Homo sapiens: one gene and its partners. Changing the gene in region 2 together with the main gene of any one other region gives a genetic interaction. Each region holds a gene or a part of one and is shown on either strand. Other genes may lie near its edges.

What was found.
Region 1: changes in SEC24A (region 2) and ARL5B together harm fitness more than expected from each alone (negative genetic interaction), as found in Homo sapiens cells (one large-scale study listed by BioGRID).
Region 3: changes in SEC24A (region 2) and TRAPPC11 together harm fitness less than expected from each alone (positive genetic interaction), as found in Homo sapiens cells (one large-scale study listed by BioGRID).
Region 4: changes in SEC24A (region 2) and ARL5A together harm fitness more than expected from each alone (negative genetic interaction), as found in Homo sapiens cells (one large-scale study listed by BioGRID).

The regions. Positions count from the first base shown.
Region 1 is NC_000010.11:18,672,750-18,677,353, forward strand, and holds part of ARL5B (ADP-ribosylation factor-like protein 5B), read left to right. Parts: intron 1-1,234; coding exon 1,235-1,386; intron 1,387-2,418; coding exon 2,419-2,467; 3' UTR 2,468-4,604.
Region 2 is NC_000005.10:134,657,272-134,662,284, forward strand, and holds part of SEC24A (protein transport protein Sec24A), read left to right. Parts: intron 1-3,847; coding exon 3,848-4,315; intron 4,316-4,458; exon of another isoform or gene 4,459-4,518; intron 4,519-5,013. UniProt on the Homo sapiens protein: Component of the coat protein complex II (COPII) which promotes the formation of transport vesicles from the endoplasmic reticulum (ER).
Region 3 is NC_000004.12:183,693,612-183,698,215, reverse strand, and holds part of TRAPPC11 (trafficking protein particle complex subunit 11), read right to left. Parts: coding exon 4,479-4,604; intron 4,300-4,478; coding exon 4,178-4,299; intron 3,613-4,177; coding exon 3,493-3,612; intron 714-3,492; coding exon 648-713; intron 538-647; coding exon 381-537; intron 1-380. UniProt on the Homo sapiens protein: Involved in endoplasmic reticulum to Golgi apparatus trafficking at a very early stage.
Region 4 is NC_000002.12:151,824,699-151,830,022, reverse strand, and holds the start of ARL5A (ADP-ribosylation factor-like protein 5A), read left to right. Parts: upstream 1-1,601; 5' UTR 1,602-1,846; coding exon 1,847-1,892; intron 1,893-5,324. UniProt on the Homo sapiens protein: Lacks ADP-ribosylation enhancing activity.

The sequences.
Region 1 (4,604 bases), on a different chromosome or scaffold from region 2:
TCTGTACGTTGCCTTTGCTTTTTTGCAAAGATTAATGTGATATGATGTTGGCTATTTTATGATTAACACAACTTTATGTACTAAACTGATGAAAGTCTTGAGGTAAAAAAAAATGTTCATTACTTTTTCAAACTTAAAAAACCCTAACACATTAATTTGTAGATTACTACTGTTATTGTAAAAATTTTTCAAAGCTAAAGTTACTTAAGCATGCCTTTAAAAGTCTGATAAATTGAGATAAGCAAAAGGAAAACTTAAGGGTCTTTTCCCCAAAAGTTTCAATAACTGAAAGGTTTTTTTTTTGTTTTTTGTTTTTGTTTTTGTTTTTTTTGAGACGGAGTCTTGCTCTGTTGCCCAGGCTGGAGTACCGTGGCGCGATCTTGGCTCACTGCAACCTCCGCCTCCTGGGTTCAAGCAGTTCTCTGCCTCAGCCTCCCGAGTAGCTGGGATTACAGGAACCCGCCACCACGCCTGGTTAATTTTTGTATTTTTAGTAGAGACAGGATTTCACCATCTTCGCCAGCCTGGCCTTGAATTCCTGATGTCGTTATCCGCCTGCCTCAGCCTCCCAAAGTGCTGGGATTACAGGTGTGAGCCACTGTGCCTGGCCTGTATTCCATGTTTTTCAAACTTATACTATATAATATATATCTTTCTGAATCTTGCTCTTTTTGTACAACATTGTGACTTATCCATGATAATATATTCTGATTATCCATCTTAATATGTACTGCTTTCGTTCATTCCTTTTAACAACTGTATAGTTTTCCACAGTATGAGTATATCACAATCTATTCTTCTAATGTTTTCATAGTATAAACAATGCTGAAATGAATATTAACCAATGACCTTATGTTATACAAAGACTAGTAAGTAATAAGTATTGCCCAGCTCCCACCACCAGTACTCTTAAGTTTTGGATAAACTCTAGTATTTGGCAACATACTACCATATTTGCCTATTAGAATATTAATTATGTATTTTTGAGTCAGTATTTAAAATTCAGGTGTATTTTTTTTTTTCAGTTTGACCAGTTCGACTCAAAAATAAAAAATAATTATTTAATATTAATCTGTTGGAATGAATAATGAAATTACGGGTATTTGAGATTATTTTTATGTTAAATACTAGTGCCCGATTATGTTAAAGTAGAAGCACTTCATTATAACTGTTCAGCTGGGTAAATTTAAATTGTGGTATTTCACATATTAGAAATATTTTGTCTTGATTGCAGGATTTACGGAAGGCTGCAGTCCTTATCTTTGCAAATAAACAGGATATGAAAGGGTGTATGACAGCAGCTGAAATCTCGAAATACCTCACCCTTAGTTCAATTAAGGATCATCCATGGCACATTCAATCCTGCTGTGCTCTCACAGGAGAAGGGTAAGTTCATCCGTCTGAGGGGAGGTATGACTTCTTTCAAATTTCTTCCAACTTTTTAGGCCAACTTGTTTTCTTCATGGGTCCTGTTCCTTTTCTGTTTGTTTGTTCTTAATTAAAGGTGACTTTTATAATGTGTCTCAGGCTTACAACCTAGAAATAATTCTAGTAAAATCACTGGCAACTTAAAAACTTTTAATGTAAATATAATGTTTTACCAAAAAGCAATAAACTATTGAATTGAGTTTTCATAATCCAAATTTTTTTCTTTGTTGCCTTTATCATATACTGAGAAAAAAACTGTAATGTCACCTTTCTTTTAAAAAGGAAGCTTGAAAGAAATTTCACATTTTCTGCAAGGACTTAAACCTGAGCTCTCAGCTTTCTGCAAGAGTATGTCTTCTTTATTATTAGGAGGTCTTTTGGGAGGCATATTTCCAGACAATAAACAGTTGAGACAAATGCCACATGGTCTATTCTTCCATCTCTAACAATTTGAATGTGGGTATTAGGCCAAGAAGAACCGAATGTTATTTAAGTATTATCCTGTTTATATCAGAGAACTTATCCTCAAATCAACCTCACCTTCTTAGTTTTTCTCTTAGTATTTATCAGAAATAGCTTGCAGTAATAGCTGTGTGTAGGCCTTTTTGACTCATACTTTTAAGACTGAGTCTAAGTATTCCATTCTTTAGAATTGAGGAGGATAAGGTGAAGTTGCTATTGACTTTCTCCAGTCGTTAAGTTTCAGTTAATTTTAAAAGGCGGGGAGTATTTGCACTCTTCATGGCAAAACTGGCAAAGTTGTATCTTCAAGATGAGACTGAAGCAATTTCCCACAAACTGATTAAGAATATTTAAGAGAACATTCCATTTAAAAATTTCACTTATTATAGTGTGACTTGAATGTTGACACTGATGTATATAAATAATGATTGTGCTACCAGCCTTTGGTTAAGACCTAAAAATAATAAGTACGCTTTCAGTTTTTAAGTATAAGGTTTTTAATTAAAAATACTTCTATCTTTTGTTTAGGTTATGCCAAGGTCTAGAGTGGATGACCTCCCGGATTGGTGTGAGATAACTTTTTTGCTTGAAAGAGACTGCTCTATTTATTCTGTGACATGAACATTTTTTCCTAGTACCTTTGGCTGCTAAGGCAGCAGCATGTTTAATTTATAACAACACAAACCTCTGAGAGCAACACTTGAATCAAGTGCAGCTGAACTGGAACATAAAAGATTTTTTCTTAACTTTTTTTTTTTAACACACTAATCTTCAGTTGGATGAATGTAATGTATAACTATGTTTTCAGCAACAATTCTTCTGTTTATTCTAATTAATCAGTGACTGCCTTGTAAGAAATGTTTGTCATATGCGTGATGTCTTCTGAAATATTCTTATAACCTTAATGACCAATTGCTTTCAATTCTTGACCAGCACTCCCTCCCAACCAGAGAATTACTGGTTTGATAGAGTAGTCTTGGAAACCATCAGGTACTGCCTGCAGACTTCTCCAGCACTAAATATATTTGTTCCCTCTATAAACCATTCATCTTTCGGACAGAACTTACTGTAAAGAAAGAAATCTGCCTAGAGGATATATGTAAGGAAGATTCCACATCATGAGTACTTGCCTTTTAACTTTCCCCCACATTACTGTTGAGTCATGGAATAATGTTTAAGTTGTTATTTGCATGGAAATTAAGTAGGCTGTTTATTTATCTAAAGGAATCAAGTCCACTCTTCTGCCTGCAACATTTGTTCAAAAACTAACCAAGGTAAAATATTTATTTGAAAGCCCAACTTTGATGTTAAATATTCTTGAATAAATCTGTTATTTTAAGAATATCACATTATTCAATGCATATAAAACTATCAGAAGTTAGTAAATCATACCAGCACTAAAAATAAGACAATTGGAATATATTTTAGCATCAGTTTACAAACAACTTTATTATCAACAGAAATTTTAGCTCTTTTCTTTGCAAGATATATCACAGCTGCTTTGGGCAGTAGCTGAAGCCGAAGTATGAACAGTCCATTTTGTTTCTTAAAATTTGAAGTCGTGTCTGTCATAGCATTTTTACTACCAGCAGTATGTTACTTAAAAAACTACATGGCTTTCCTTGAATTTATTTGACGGTATTATGTAATAGACTTGAAACAATTGCCATCTTTGTAGTTATGCCTTGGGTTCTAAAATGTTATAGGAAACTGCTGAATTGAATCCTAGCTTTTAGAATATTAATAGGAGACTCAAAGTTAATATTCTTAACAACTTAAAATTAAAAAAAGTCATAATCTATCAAAAGTTTATTTATTGGATGGCATTAAAACATTTTTGAGGCAGTTGTCTAATATGAACAATAATCTAAACAATATATTCCTTAAATTAAGAGGAAAGACAAGTGTCGTATTTCGATCCTGTTTATTCAAATGTGTGATTTTGCTGAAATGAAAGGGATAAAATGAATACTTAGAGAATAATACTTCATTTTTGCAGTACTTTTTAATTTTGATAAAAAAGATACAAAGTTCATAATATCAAAATATGTGTTCAAAATTGGTATTTTAATTTTAATATTTTTGTAAGTTGATTTAAATTTTGCTCTTTTTTCAGGTGTGCTTGGTTTATTATATTTAGTCAAGTTAATTTAGTCGAATGTGGTAACATTTTTCTGATTTATCTTTAGTTGGAGCACACCCTTGAACTGAACAGTGGCCAAAGGAAAGCTTTCTGGGCTTTGGAAAGTAGTTGTTTAACTTTGTTTTAAGCCGTTTTCTTAGTGATTCTGTATCAAGTAGAGGATAAGTGTAGTTTAACTTAGTTTTTAATATAACCCATAATCAAGAACATGAGCGAAAAGCAGACATAAATCGATATGGATGGTTTGTGGTGTGTGTGGGATGTGGGGGAATTAAGAAAATGCCATTTACCTAAGCACAGTTTGCCTGAATTTCTGCTTGGTTGTGTTGTTTACCGTAAGTACTGAGGGTAGTTTCCCTAAGTCTGTCCTGAGAAAAAGCATACTTAGTACTCCTGTATTTGTTCTTATGAAATGACTATCTGCCTTCTTGTATCTAGTAAGATTGGCTGGCTCAATTTTCTTCTGTCAAATTATATGGTTATTTTTTATATTACCACATCAGCATTATATTAAAAGTGTTTTTAATAGTTGATTGTATTTTGCCAACTACTAGTATAGACTCAAATTTGC
Region 2 (5,013 bases):
CTCCTGGCCTCAAGTGATCCTCCCACCTTGACTTTCTAAAGTGCTGGGATTGCAGGCATGAGCCACCGTGCCTGGCCTACATTTCTATTCTTTTCTCTTTCTGTTCAAATGAATAAACACGGCCATCCACCAGGTTGCTCAGGTCAGAAACCTAGGAGTCATCCTAGATTTTTTCCTCTCTTCATCACCCATATTCAATTCCACATAAAATCCCATGAATGCTGTTTCCTCAAATCAGTTTTTAAAAATTTGAGTAATGTATAGATACTAAATATTTCTCTGCTGTCCCAATGTTAAATTATTTATTTATTTATTTTACTTCTGACACAGGTTCTCACTCTGTTGCCCAGGCTAGAGTGCAGGGGCATGATCACAGCCCACTGCAGGCTTGATCTCTTGGGTTCAAGTGATCCTCCCGCCTCAGCCTCCCAAGTAGCTGGGAATATAGGCACGTGCCACCACAACTGGCTAATTATTTATTTTTTTGTAGAGACGAGGTCTCACTATATTACCCAGGTTATTCTTGAACTCCTGAGGTCAAGCCGTGCTCCCACCTTGGCTTTTCAAAGTGCTCGGATTACAAGATCAAGCCAACATGCCTGGCAAAAATTATTTTTATTAAATGTGTATATGCAAACACAAAACTAGATGTAAACTTCATAGGGTTATAGCTATTGTACTATTGTAAAACCAAACATTAAAAATATCAACATATGGCTGGGCATGGTGGCTCACGCCTGTAATCCCAGCACTTTGGGAGGCTGAGGTGGCCAGATCACTTGAGGTCAGAAGTTCAAGAACAGCCTGGCCAACATGGTGAAATCCCGTCTCTACTAAAAATACAAAATTAGCCAGCGTGGTGGTGCACACCTGTAATCCTAGCTACTCGAGAGGCTGAATGAGGCAGGAGAATCGCCTGAACCCAGGAGGCGGAGGTTGCAGTGAGCCGAGATCGCACCACTGCACTTTAGCTTGGGCAACAGAGCGAGACTCTGTCTCAAAAAAAAATCAAAAGCAATATAATTCAATTTTAAAACATTAAACAATATGCTACATTTTGTTTGAAACCACAGTTGATTTGATTGTTTTAATTTTGAATATGTTGGAACATTACTTGGGTGACTATCATGCTCACTTTTTCCTTTTTGTTTTTGAGACACGTTCTCACTCTGTAGCCCAGGGTGGAATGCCTAATTATAGCTCACTGAAGTCAAACTCCTGGGCTCAAGCAGTCCTCTTGCCTCAGCCTCCTGAGAAGCTAGATCTACAGGCATGTGCCACAACTCCTGGCTAATTTTTTAATTTTTAATTTTTTTGTGTGGAAATGGAGTCTCGCTGTGTTGCCCAGGCTGGTCTCCTACTCCTGAGCTCAAGTAGTTCTGCTTTGGCCTCCCAGTGTGATGGGATTACAGGCATGAGCCACCATGCCCAACCTCTACACGATTTTAATAGGGGAAGAATGGGGTGGGGGAGAGGACATTTACTGGAAAACAGACGACTTATAGGAAGGATAAATGGGCTTTTAGAATAGATATGATAGTTTTGTGATGATATCTGTTTAGGTGTGGTGTGGAAATTTCTCATCTCAGGTCATGAGTCAGATTGACATCTTTCCTGGTTGCCCCTGGGAAGTAGATTATGACAATTGAGTTCTTTTGGAAGGCTCTGTTTTAGGCAGATAAGAGATTTTAGGAACTCAAATGCCTTCTGCTTAAAATAATTTTTATGCCATAGTAGCGTATTCTGGACCCCTTCACAATCACTGACCCATTTATTTTTATTTATTTATTTATTTATTTATTTATTTATTTATTTATTGAGATGGAATCTTGCTCTGTCACCCAGGCTGGAGTGCAGTGGCGCGATGTTGGCTCACTGCAAGCTCTGCCTCCTGGGTTCACGCCATTCTCCTGCCTCAGCCTCCCGAGTAGCTGGGACTACAGGCACCCGCCACCACGCTCCACTAATTTTTTTGTATTTTTAGTAGAGATGGGGTTTCACCATGTTAGCCAGGATGGTCTTGATCTCCTGACCTCGTGATCCGCCCGCCTTGGCCTCCCAAAGTGCTGGGATTATAGGCGTGAGCCACCGCGCCTGGCCTCACAGACCCATTATTTTGATGGGCTACTTAGTAATGACTTCAGAATTTAAAAAAATTATCCATTTAGTGAAGGTGTCATTATATATTTATTACTACACTTTTTGTGAACTACTTGTAATTGATCCATATATGATTTTCACATAGTGGGGAGGGATGTCAGAAAAAAAAATTTTCATGTAATAGTTACTCACAATAGGTCTATGATGGTGACTACCACAAAACAAGTTCTTTTGTATCTGTCTTCCTGCCAGTTGGCCTTATGACCTCATATTCTTTTTTTTTTTTTTTTTTTTGAGACAGGATACAGGGTCTCACTTTGTCACAGAGGCTGGAGTGCAGTGGCGTGAACGCAGCTCCCTGCAGCCTTAACCTCCTGTGCTCAGTGATCCTCCTGCCTCAGCCCCAAGTAGCTGGGACTTACAGGCAGGCGCCACCACACCCAACTAATTCTTATATTTTTTATAGAGACGAGGTCTTACTATTATGTCCAGGCTGGTCTCGAACTCCTGAGCTCAAGCTATCTGCCCGCCTTGGCCTCCCAAAGTGTTGGGATTATATGTGTGAGGCACCATGCCCAGCATGTTTTCATCTTTATTGGCCTGTCAAATTTTTGCTTATTTTGTACATTTTGATGGTATTTGGCTTTCACTTGGCTGTACCTGGCTTGAAGGCACCTCTTTAGCGTATTAGCTTGTGATAAGATTGTAAATACAACCTGTTTGCTCACGCCTGTAATCCTAGCGCTTATAGAGGCTGAGGCAGGAGGATTACTTGAGCTCAGGAATTTGAGACCAGCCTGGGCAACATAGTGAGTCTCTGTCTCTACAAAAAAAAAAAAAAAAAATTAGGCCGGCGTGGTGGTGCATGCCTGTAGTCCCAGCTTCTCAGGAGGCTTAGATGGGAGGATCGCTTGAGCCCAGGAGGTCAGAGCTACAGTGAGCCATGATTGTGCCACTGTACTCCAGCTTGGATGACAGAGTAAAGTGCTGTCTCAATCAATCAATCAATCCATAAGTAAGTAAATAAAATTGTAATACAAATATGAAACTAGGCCAGGACATCTTGTGGCAACATTGGGCTGTGAGATGGCCTATTTTTATCCAAGTGACCCAACATATGCTTATATATTATTTTTTTACAAATGTTTTCATTTATTGAGACATCTCTGTATTCCCTCTGTTACTTGCTACTGTTTAGTCCATCTTTTTTTTTTTTTTTTGTCACCCAGGCTGGAGTGCAATGGTGTGACCTTGGCTCACTGCAGCCTTGACCTCCTGGGTTCAAGTAATCCTCCTGCCTCAGCCCCCCAAGTAGCTAAGACTACAGGCGCATACCATCAAGGCTGGCTACTTTTTGTTTTTTTTTATAGGCATGGGGTTTCACCATGTTGCCCAGGCTGGTCTTGAACTCCTGGGCTCAAGCTATCCACCTGCCTTGGCCTCCCAAAGTGCTGGGATTACAGATGTGAGCCACTGCGCTGGCCTTCATTGTGGTTTTGATTTACATTTCTGTTATGACTAATTATGTTTGTATTTCTCTAATGACTGATGATGTTGAATGTTTTGGCATGTGCTTATTAGCTATCTTCTTTGGAAGTATGTTTGAATGTCTATTTAAGTCCTTTGCTTATTTTTTAATTGAGTTATGTGTTTTTATTGCTGACTGTAAGAATATATGTTTTACTTTATTTCTTAAAGTATTGCTATATTCGTTGGTAAGACTAATTTTTCCTCCTTTTATTGGAAGGTCCTGTCCAAAATGCATTGCTGTCTTCACAAGAGTCAGTGAGCCAAGGATACAATTTCCAGCTTCCAGGATCCTACCCTCATCCAATACCAGCAAAGACTTTGAATCCAGTCTCTGGACAGTCTAACTATGGTGGTTCTCAGGGATCTGGGCAGACTCTTAATAGACCACCTGTGGCCTCTAATCCAGTGACACCTTCGCTTCATAGTGGTCCTGCTCCCCGAATGCCATTACCTGCTTCTCAGAACCCAGCTACTACACCAATGCCTTCTAGTAGCTTTCTTCCTGAAGCCAACCTGCCACCACCTTTGAATTGGCAATATAACTATCCATCCACAGCCTCACAAACAAACCATTGTCCTCGTGCATCATCCCAACCAACTGTATCTGGAAATACAAGTTTAACCACAAATCATCAATATGTTTCTTCTGGATATCCTTCACTTCAAAATAGCTTCATAAAGTCAGGTAGTATTCTTATAGAAGTGCTTAAAATGTAGAAATGTGAAACTTTTGCTTATTTAGATGTTTGAAATAATACTTGAAACCTGAAAACCATATGGAAAATGTGACTTTTAAAATTATTAGTAGTTTTTTGTTGTTTTTTGTTTTTCGGCTTTCCAGCAAAAACCAGAAAGCCTGCTAGACAAATTAAGTAAGCTATAACACTCATTAGTAGTTTTTTTTTTCATTCTTTTTTCTCTTTTTTTTTTTTTTTTTTGAGATGGGGTCTTGCTCTGTCACCCAGGCTGGAAAGCAGTGGCACAATCTCAGCTCACTGCAACCTCTGCCTCCCTGGTTCAAGCAATTTTCCTGCCTCAGCCTCCAGAGTAGCTGGGATTATGGGATTACAGGCACGTGCCACTGCACCCAGCTAACTTTTTGTATTTTTAGTAGAGATGGGGTTTCACCATATTGGCCAGGCTGGTCTTGAACTCCCGACCTCAGGTAATCCGCCCACCTCAGCCTCCCAAAGTGCGAGGATTACAGGCGTGAGCCACCACACCTGGCCACATTTATTTATTTTATTTATTTATTATTTATTTATTTTTTTGAGACGGAGTCTCTCTCTGTCGCCCAGGCTGGAGTGCAGTGGCGTGATCTTGGCTCACTGCAAGCTCTGCCTCCCGGGTTCACGCCATTCTCCTGCCTCAGCCTCCCGAGTA
Region 3 (4,604 bases), on a different chromosome or scaffold from region 2:
TTCCAAAGTTTCTTTAATAAATACCTTTTCTCATTTCAAGTTATGAAAAACAGTAAACATTAAGAGTTAATGAGAAAAAAATCTTTAAAAAGTTCAAAAATGAAAAAAAAATTCTTTTTGTGAAGTACATTTTCAAAGTATAACTCCCTTAGAGTAGGAAAAAAGTCTAACCTTTTAAAATCAGGTATACTCAAGCAAATGGTATTATAAATGACACTAATTCCACCTTAATTCCATATGCATTTGCTTTCACGAGTGCAGGTCTCAAGTTCCCTCACTTAGCAAAAAGCTAATTAACTCTTCCATTGCCAGCTTATACACACACACACACACGCGCGCACAATTCTCCTGGTCTTTAAGTGGGAATGAACCAGACTCACCATTGTCCACTTGAGACTCGAGCTGGTCCACTGTGGTCATGGATGGAGCAAGCTGGAGCTCACTGGAAACAATAGTGAGGGCCCAGGGTGAGGCACTTAAGAGGTCCGTCATCAACAGAAAGGGGATGTCAGCATAAACCCTTTCCAGGTGCTCAAACTGTCACAAATGAAGATAAAAGGTCTGTCAGGAATTACCTTAATCCATTTTATCATTTCAGTCCATTTTTATAACCTAAATGATTTCTAGTATGCCTCAAAGAAACATACCTTGGTAGAAACAAATTTAACCGCAACATCAAATGGAAAGACTGTTTCAATTGTTACAGTTTCATCCTGCAAGAAAATGTAAAGGGCACATTCATGGATTTTCTAAATCTTTTTATATAAAGTTTTAAAAAACACAACCTATCACTGATCAATAAATAATCCCAAATTATACATACTAAGAAGTAAAGGCCTTTTAGATAACATTTGTAAAAATCTGTGTCGAGAGAACTGAGTACTAATTTTTTTTTTTTCCTTTGGGAGACAGGGTCTCACTCTGGCAACCAGGATGGAGGACAGTGGCACCATCACAGATCACTGCAGCCTCGAACACCTGGGCTCAAGTGATCCTCCTGAGCAGCTGGGACTACAGGAGCACACTACCACGCCCGGCTACCGTATTTTATGGTTTTAGAGATGGGGTCTTGCTATGTTGCTCAGGCTAGTCTTGAACTCCTAGCCTCAAGTGATCCTCTTGCCTCAGAACCCCAAAGTGCTGGTACTACAGGAGTGAACCACAGCACCTGGCTAAAGTGTTTTCTTATACATTATTTATCTCTGGATCTAATGAAGTGGGCAGGGCAGGCATCATCACCATTTTGCAGAGGAGGAATCAGACGTTCCACAAAGCTAGGGTCTTCCTTTTGTCTAAGTTCCTACTACACCTCAACTCAAAATGACTAATAAGAAAGATAATAATAATGTAATGTGACAGACACTGCTATCATCCGTATACATGTATTATGTAATGTTCATAATCACACAAGGAAACAAGTGCTATTATGATTGCCACTTTAAGATGAGGTCATGGAGCCTACACTCTTAACCAACATGCTACATCTCCTTTCTAAAAGAGTCTGTTAGAAAAACAATGGGGGGGTGGGCATGGTGGCTCACACCTGTAATCCCAGCTTTGGGAGGCTGAGGTGGACAAATTGCTTGAGCTCAGGAGTTCAAGACCAGCCTGAGCAACATGGCACAACCCTGTCTCTACCAAAAATATAAAAAATCTGCTGAGTATGGTGGTGCACACCTGTAGTCCCAGTTACTCGGGAGGCTGAGATGGGTGGATTGCTTGAACCCAGGAGTCGGAGGCTGCAGTGAACCAAGATCGTGCCACTACACTCCAAGCTGGGCAACACAGTGAGACCCCATGTCAAAATAAAAAAATAAAAGAAAGAAGAAAAAAAACCATGGGGTTATTTCATCTTTCAAAACAAATAACACAACCTCTTGGTAAGAAACCTTTAAAAAAGATCATACTGGTTAAAAGCTCAGGCTGTAATGCCAGACAGAGCTGAATTCTAATCCTGGCTCAATACATATTTACTAGCTCTGTGACCTTGAACCTAATGACGTGACCCTGGGAAAGTTATACAGGTTATCTGAAATGCTTGGGGCCAGAAGTGTCTCAGATTTTTTGGATTTTGGAGTATTTGGATTATACTTACTTGTTGAGCATTCCAAGTCCAAAATGCTCCTGGGAGCATTTCCTTTGAGTGTCATGCTGGCACTCAAAAAGTTTCCAAAAGATTTTGGAACGTTTTGGATTTTGAATTTTCAGATTTGGGATGCTCAACTCATGCAGTCTCTTTAAGTCCCAGTTTCATAATCCTCACAGGCTTGTTAGAAAAATCAAATGAGATAATACATATAATGTGCTGAGATTGGCACCCTTATCTCCTAAGCTACCATATAGGACTCTATGTATTATACCAGGCTATGAGAAATTTTCAACAGTACATTACATGCCTTCTTCTCTCCCGCTTGGGAAATACTAATAATTTTGAGATGGTTTTCTTTCCCAATGACTAGTAAATAGCCCACAGCCCAGACTCTGTGCAGTAACAAAACTACAAATCCCCAAATTGCTATAGGCCTTCTCCTCTGCTGGGCTGAGGACCCAATTCCTAAGAGAAAACTAAGACAACATTACTGTCAGGACCAAGAAGATACCAAATATCATAATGTTCTACTAACAAAAGAGAACATAAACATTATATACAGCACAATTGAATCTATTTAGAAACATGGCCTGTTAAAAATCTCTAGAAATAGAAAAGAGACCAATAAGAAACACAAAGAGTTAGCAGTTGCCTTCGAGTTGTGAACTGTAACCGTGATCGTTCCTATTTTCACTTTTATGTGCACTTACCGAAAACAATTTTTACCAATATTTTTTAATAACAGAAAAATGCCTTTCAAAGGGCGACCTCCTTTTCTCCAGAACCCTCTATATGTAAGTCAACTTACAGATTTTATCTCATGTGTGATTTGCTTGAGATCTCAATCCTATTGATCCTCTATACGAAAAGCCATATAGGCCGGGTCCAGTGGATCACGCCTGTAATCCCAGCACTTTGGGAGGCCAAGGTGGGCAGATCACCTGAGGTTGGGAGTTCAAGACCAGCCTGACCAACATGGAGAAACCCCGTATCTACTAAAAATACAAAAAATTAGCTGGGTGTGGTGGTGCATGCCTGTAATCCCAGCTACTCGGGAGGCTGAGGCAGGAGAATCGCTTGAACCCGGGAGGTGGAGGTCGCAGTGAGCCAAGATCGTGCCACTGCACTCCAGCCTGGGCGACAAGGGCAAAACTCCGCCTCAAAAAAAAAAAAAAAAAAAAGAAAAGCCATATAAGCTAATTTTCTGTTTAATGTTTGAGCAGTGAATGCCAGCCTAAACAAATCTCAATATAAGTGATTTTTTAAAAAGTTTAATTAAAATTTATAACAGACTATAAGCACCTAAACTGCTTATTTTATGCTTATTTTATAGGTAAACTAAAATAACACAAAATGGGAATACTCCACATATGATGCTTTATAAAGTAGCTATAAAAAAATACCTTGTGACACTTGCAAACAATTTCTTTTTCTTCAACGGTTGTATTTATCAGGTAAGAAACATATACAAGAAACATTCTGGAACCCACTGTTCCACAGCGAACATACAACATTTTTTCCAGCTGTAACAAAATAAATGTTGTAATTTAATTAGTATTACAGACATTTCTTCTTGATATATATTCTAGGATAATGTTCCCACCTTCTAGAGTTTATTTATACCAACTGGCTAAATTCTTTATCACTTTTACAGAATGTTACAATGTAACTCATCAATGCTCCCACTGTAGTAGAGTACTCTGATTACACTGTGGCCACAGTATAAGGGTGGGATCATTACTACTGCATCTTTTAGAAATTATTGTTCTTTAACTTCCAAAATATTTTTCTATCTAGTTTGGAAGCAGAAGTTGACTGAGAAGTTAACTGCACTAAGTTACAAACAATGGGTATTTTATTAGCCCACTAATTCATGTTAAGCATGTTTTCTAAATTCCCTTGTAGAAAAACTGCTTAAGACATTTTACACATTTACGTATGTAAAATGTGTATGAAATGTTCATTAGTTAAATCACTTTTTCAGTCCTAGAATATGCGTTAAAACGCTCTGAACTGTTAAAAACTCACTATATATTTAAAACTACAAACTAATTGATTTCCTCTTCAATCCCAGTTGACCAAGTTTACCTGTTCCCCTGGATGTAAGTCTCCAACAGGAATGTCAGTGAGTAAAGCCGGGTAGGATTCATCACACAGTTCTGTTCCATGAAGAGTCACGTGAGTCTTCTGAGTTAAATTGGCATCCTGTCCTAAAAGAGTTAATATTGGTTCTTCAAAACAAAGAATTCAAACATTATCCCAATAATCAATACTGTGTGAAGAGCACTATGCCATACCCTCTTGTAAACAAAAGTCCTAGAGTTGACATCACTGATGCTTATTTAATGTTGGATTAATACTGATCAAACTTACAAAAAGGAATGCTTACCTGGTTTTAAGCCAGCGGTGAGCTTCACATCTCTGATTTGGGTCTTTTCATGGGACTGAACAGTCACAACCAAACAATACATTTCATTAGTCAGTGCAGGGGGTTCATGTAGCAGATGTACAGAAA
Region 4 (5,324 bases), on a different chromosome or scaffold from region 2:
GTAGCTCCCTCCTTCCAGTTACTCTGCTTCACAAATTCTAGTCACCTTGATCTCTGGGAATGCTGATATGCGTCTTCAGTTCTAAGAGGTTTCCAGATTCTCATTTGGGTTCCCACTTCCTCCGTAGTTGACTGGGAATTGCTTTTAGGGATAAAGTCCAGGAAATGGTAAGACTCCACCTGTTCCTTTCTCTTTTGCAAAGAATCACAGTACTGTGATGTGTTTTTCAATATCTGAAATGTCGTTGCCTGTACTTTGTGCAGTTTTCTATTTGCTAATGGTAGGAGGATATATTCAAACCATCCTACTCTCTCATGCCTGAAGTCAGAAGTCTCTCCAATGACATTTTGCATTTCTCTGTAATCATAGATAAATTGGTCTTTAAACTCTCTGTCTCTGTCTCTCTCTCTCTCTTCTTTCTTCACTCGGAAAATAACCTGGGAGACCATTTCCTTGGGTAGATTGTAAAATATGAAGCTCCGCCATCACATAATGTGTATATGACATCCATTTCATAAGTTGACATCTGTGTGGGAGTCTGAAAAAGTCTTAGAGCTACCAAAGCATTACCTACGGTGTGCGAGAATGGAAATATTACAGAGTTAATGCAAATTGGTTATACAAACTACATTGTTCTTCTAAACAGTGTACAGAATATTAAGTAAATCCAGACATGATAATACATAAATTAATATGGATTACTATGATTTTCCTTCCCTTCATGTATGGCTCCTCTAAACTTTGGCTTTTTAACCATAAAGCCCCAAAAGAAGTCAACGAAATTACTTTTCTATATTTTGAGGTAAAATACTGGGTAGTTAGGAGAAGTGAGTTGGGAAGGTGCGGTTTATTGCTGATTTTGCTTAATTTCATTCAGCTGTTGGGGATGGGAGTGCAAAGCAGTTCAAATGGCTCCTACAAGTCTCCCAATTTTTCTTTATTTTCCTTTTTACTAAGGTTAACGAGAACAGAAAGGGATGGAGCTTTGGTGGCCACTAAAGGTTTTTAAACAGGGTAGTGACTTGATCAAAATCGTTGTTTTGGGCAATACTGACGTGAGAGTTAAGAGATTGGAGAGAAAAGAGCCCTGAAGTGCAAAAATGGCTTTAAGGTGACTATCTAGGTAAGGCCACTGACTTCAGCTGAGTGTCAGAGGGCAGCAGACTTTTCCCTCAAAGACCCACAGGGGACACAATGTCTTAAAGAGTCATGACGTGGAACTTTAAGTGTAGTGTATGTGAAGGGTTGGGGATGGACATGGGGTACTCAATTATATGTTTACATTATGGCGCAGTGGAGAAGATTCGAGGGAAATATAAATACTCGGGGACGCAACAGCAAGCAGTCGGAAGCCATCTGCCCCAACTTGCGGTCTTCACAGCCTCAGTCCCAGGGTAAAGTCCTGCGCCTTCCGCAGTCTTGGTTATGCAAATAAGCGAGGACAGGGCGGGCGCCCTTTCCTACGCTCCGCCCCTCTGGCCGCGCGCCTGCGCACTCACGTCCCTCCAGGCCCGCCCCTTCACTTCCCCCGCCCGCGTGGTCGTCGCCACCGCAGCCGCCCGAGAGGAGCTGGGGGAGGACGGTGGCCCGCGAGGCTCGTCGCAGACAACGCGGCGGCGATGTCCGCGAGCCAGGCGAGTGCCGCGGCGGCAGCGGCGGGGCCTTGCGCGCGGCAGGGCGGCCTGGGCTTCGGCCTCCCTCCGGTTCCCTGGAAGCGGGCCCGCGACCAGCGCGGGAGCAGCAGCAGAGGCGGAGGCTCCAGCGCGTCTCTCTCCTCCCCCTCAGCCTGAGCCGGGGGAAGCCAGGCGGCCCGGGTGTCTGGAGGGGGGGGGTCCGCTGCCCGAGAATGGGAATTCTCTTCACTAGAATATGGAGACTGTTCAATCACCAGGGTGAGGAGCTCGGTCCGCGGGCGTACGGGTTGGGGAGAGGGTCAGCTCGGGCCGGCTAGGTGGGGGTCTCCGAATACTTCGGAATGTGGGCGGCTCGGTCGGGCGCCAGCTCAGCGCGGGGTGCAGGCTGCGCGGATACGGGCCCGGGACGGTTCGGTCCCGGCTCCCGAGCTTGGGGATGGTTCCTGACTCGCAGCCCTTTGTCTTAGGAGACCTTCCTAAGAAGTCTTTTCCGTAATAGACCCATTGCTCCGATTTCGAATGAGAGTGGTAAAGGTTTCTTGCCCTAGGTCCGACGTCCCTGAGTAGCACGGCCTGGCCTGTCTTTCAGCCCTTTCTTTGCTCACCAGTTGTGTTTGGACACCACATAGAAGTGCTGGGGTCTTCTGGAATGAAGGTTATAGATTGCTGCCCTAACCGCACCACTGAGCGACCGAGGGTTGCAGAATGCGGAAAACGGGAGGAATCGCTCGACTTGTCCATTACACCTCTGGTTTATGAGCCTGCCCTCCACTGCCACCCGTCTTTGTGTGTGTTGGGGGCAGGGGGGGTTCTTCTGCCTCCTGAATAGAGATGGACTTCTCTCCATTTGTTTTACTTATTATATCTGTGTTTAAGGTTAAGCTTAAGGTCATTTTTCTACTCGTGTGGGTTATTAGACACAGTTTTTGTTTGTTTTGCTGGGTTAAAAATGTTAAAGTGTTTCACTGAAAGTTTTAAAAACATACCATATGAAACATTTGTTAACCATAGGTAACTAGCAAGTTACTAAGTGTAAAGTGTGTTATATAGGGATGCTTAAGTTCAGCCAACTTCAGACATGGCCATGAAATACCTATCAGGCTTGTTAAAATTTGTTACAAAATGACTAAAACTGGGGAAAGAGAATACAATTTTAACCCAAAGACTGGATACTTATTAAGATACAGTGGTGTACTTTTGTTTCTTTTTAACTCAAGTTGGGTGGTTCATCATTCCGCTGTCAGGAACTTAGTTTGTGTTTTTCTGTTGTGTAAGCTGATGGTGTCACGTCCCAGTTTTCCAATAAAGACTTACGTGAATGGTGGCATCTATTATGTACACCTACTACTACCACCTCCTCCTTCATGATCTAGCTGCTCTTTTAAGAAGCTTAGGGGAAGCAAGCAGAACTAGAACTTGTGATCCCTAATGTATCTTTTACGCACACACACACACACACAGATGTGTAGGTCACGTGATACCGAAAGAAAGGGCAGTATCAATTTTTCTGATAAGAGGATTTTTCATAAAGTAGAGAAAATCAGTTCTAATCAGCACTGTCTCTGACTGGACTGGCTGTTAGTGTTGGGAGCAGGAGAGTGGGAAGCAGTCACTTGAACTCTCAGGTTTTCTGGTCTAGGTTTTCTCACCTAGAACACCAGGGATCTGTGGAGCTTCCAAATCTTGTAAACTTTATTTCTACATTGCAAATATTAAAACGTACATTGCTGTAAGACTGATGGTACTTATAGTAGATAAGATCTATTCTAGTTTTAACATCCATCATTTTGTATTATTTTTAGCAAAGCTAGTGTTTCATCTGCTGTGAGGTTTAGCAAGACTGTGAATTGAGCTCTAGTGCTGCCAGAAAAAGAGTTATCACCACTTTCTATTTTGAGTCAATGATAAAATTATTTGTTTCTGTAAGTTAAGAATAAATGAGAACTTTGCCAACAGCTCCTTGGAGTAGTAAATAATAAGGGTGTGTGCTCTGGTATCACTACAAATTGCTAATAGTAGTGTTTTTATAACCTGTATTTTGTGGTAATTTTTGACGGGACATTTATGGCAGTTTGGCGGAAATTAATAGAGAAATTAATGAAGTTAAGTTCTAGAAAATTAGATATGAATATTGTGAAAGTGTGAATAAATTATTTATTTTCTGCTAAACAGTGTGGCTGTCTTATCAATAGGGTCACTTTTCCGAATATCCACCATTTAATCTAATGCCAGATATTTGTTGGGTTTTGTTTTTGTTTTTGTTTTTTTGAGATGGAGTCTTGCTCTGTCACCAGGCTGGAGTGCAGTGGTGTGATCTTGGCCCACTGCAACCTGTGCCTCCTGGGTTCAAGCGATTCTCCTGCCTCAGCCTCCCGAGTGGCTGGACTACAGGTGCGTGCCACCACACCCAGCTAATTTTTGTATTTTTTGTAGAGATGGGGTTTCACCACGTTGGCCAGAATGGTCACCATCTCTTGACTTCGTGATCCACCCGCCTTGGGCTCCCAAAGTGCTGGGATTACAGGCCTGAGCCATGGTGCCCAGCAGGGTTGTTTTTTTTTTTTTCTGTATAGGACATATATAAGTTAGATATGTGTTGGATGCTCTTGTTTTACCTTCAGTGGATTCAGAATGCAATCTTACTTTCTTTTCATAGAAACTCTTGGAAAGTATGTTTCGGGAGATTACAGAATTTGCCATCTGATGAAACTTAAACTATGCAGTATCTCCTGTTTCTGAAACCCCTCGAGAACAGCTTTTTCAGTTAAAGCTCAGATTGAGTGCACAGTGAAAGCTATTTGTATACCGCTCGAACTAGAAAAACCAGAGGTCACATTTAGTTGATACTGAGATTCAGTAGAGTACAAACTTTATCCTAGATGCTGTCATTTAAATCATTTTATTTTATTTTATTTTATGTTTTAACAATCTTTTGAAGTAGTTATTTCCCCTGAAAAGGGAAAACTGAGGCTTAAGTGGAATGATTTTTTTTCCCCAGGCCATGCAACTGGTATATGCCAGAGCCAGGCAAGTTAAAACCCTGAAGGAATCTCTTAAAGAAGAGATTGACATCATTTTTCCCTCCCTCCTCCTCCCCCCATTAACTTTTTCAGTTGCTAATCTCTAAGTTGTCTTTAGAACTTCGAAAAGTTGCCATTAGTAACTTTTTTTTATAGAAGAGCTTGTGATCAGTGGTTTACTTGTTCTCAATAAACAAATATTTTAACACCTATTTAGTCCAGGAAGTGTTCTACATGGTGGGATAAGGGAACAAAACAGACAAATTCCACTGCCTTTATGGAGCTTTCATGTAGTGTTGGGAGACAGGAAATTAACTCACTTTGTCTCTACAAGTAAAATAATAGTGGTTAACACTTGTGCAAGGTTCACACAGGTTGTTTGATTTAATATTCACTTAGTTGATTTACTCTTTACAACAACCCTACAAGGTAGATATTATTCCCCTTATTTTACAGGGGTACGGAAACAGGTAACTTGCTTTAAGCACTATAGGTAAAAGTGATAGACCTGGATTTTAACCACGATTACGTAGTGCCGGAGTTATTTCTCCTACGCACACACACCTGGATTTTAACAAGATTATCTAGTGCCAGAGTTAGTTCTACACACACATGCACGCACGCACATTTGCACACAACTTCGTGTAAGAAGGACTTTGTATAAGAAGGA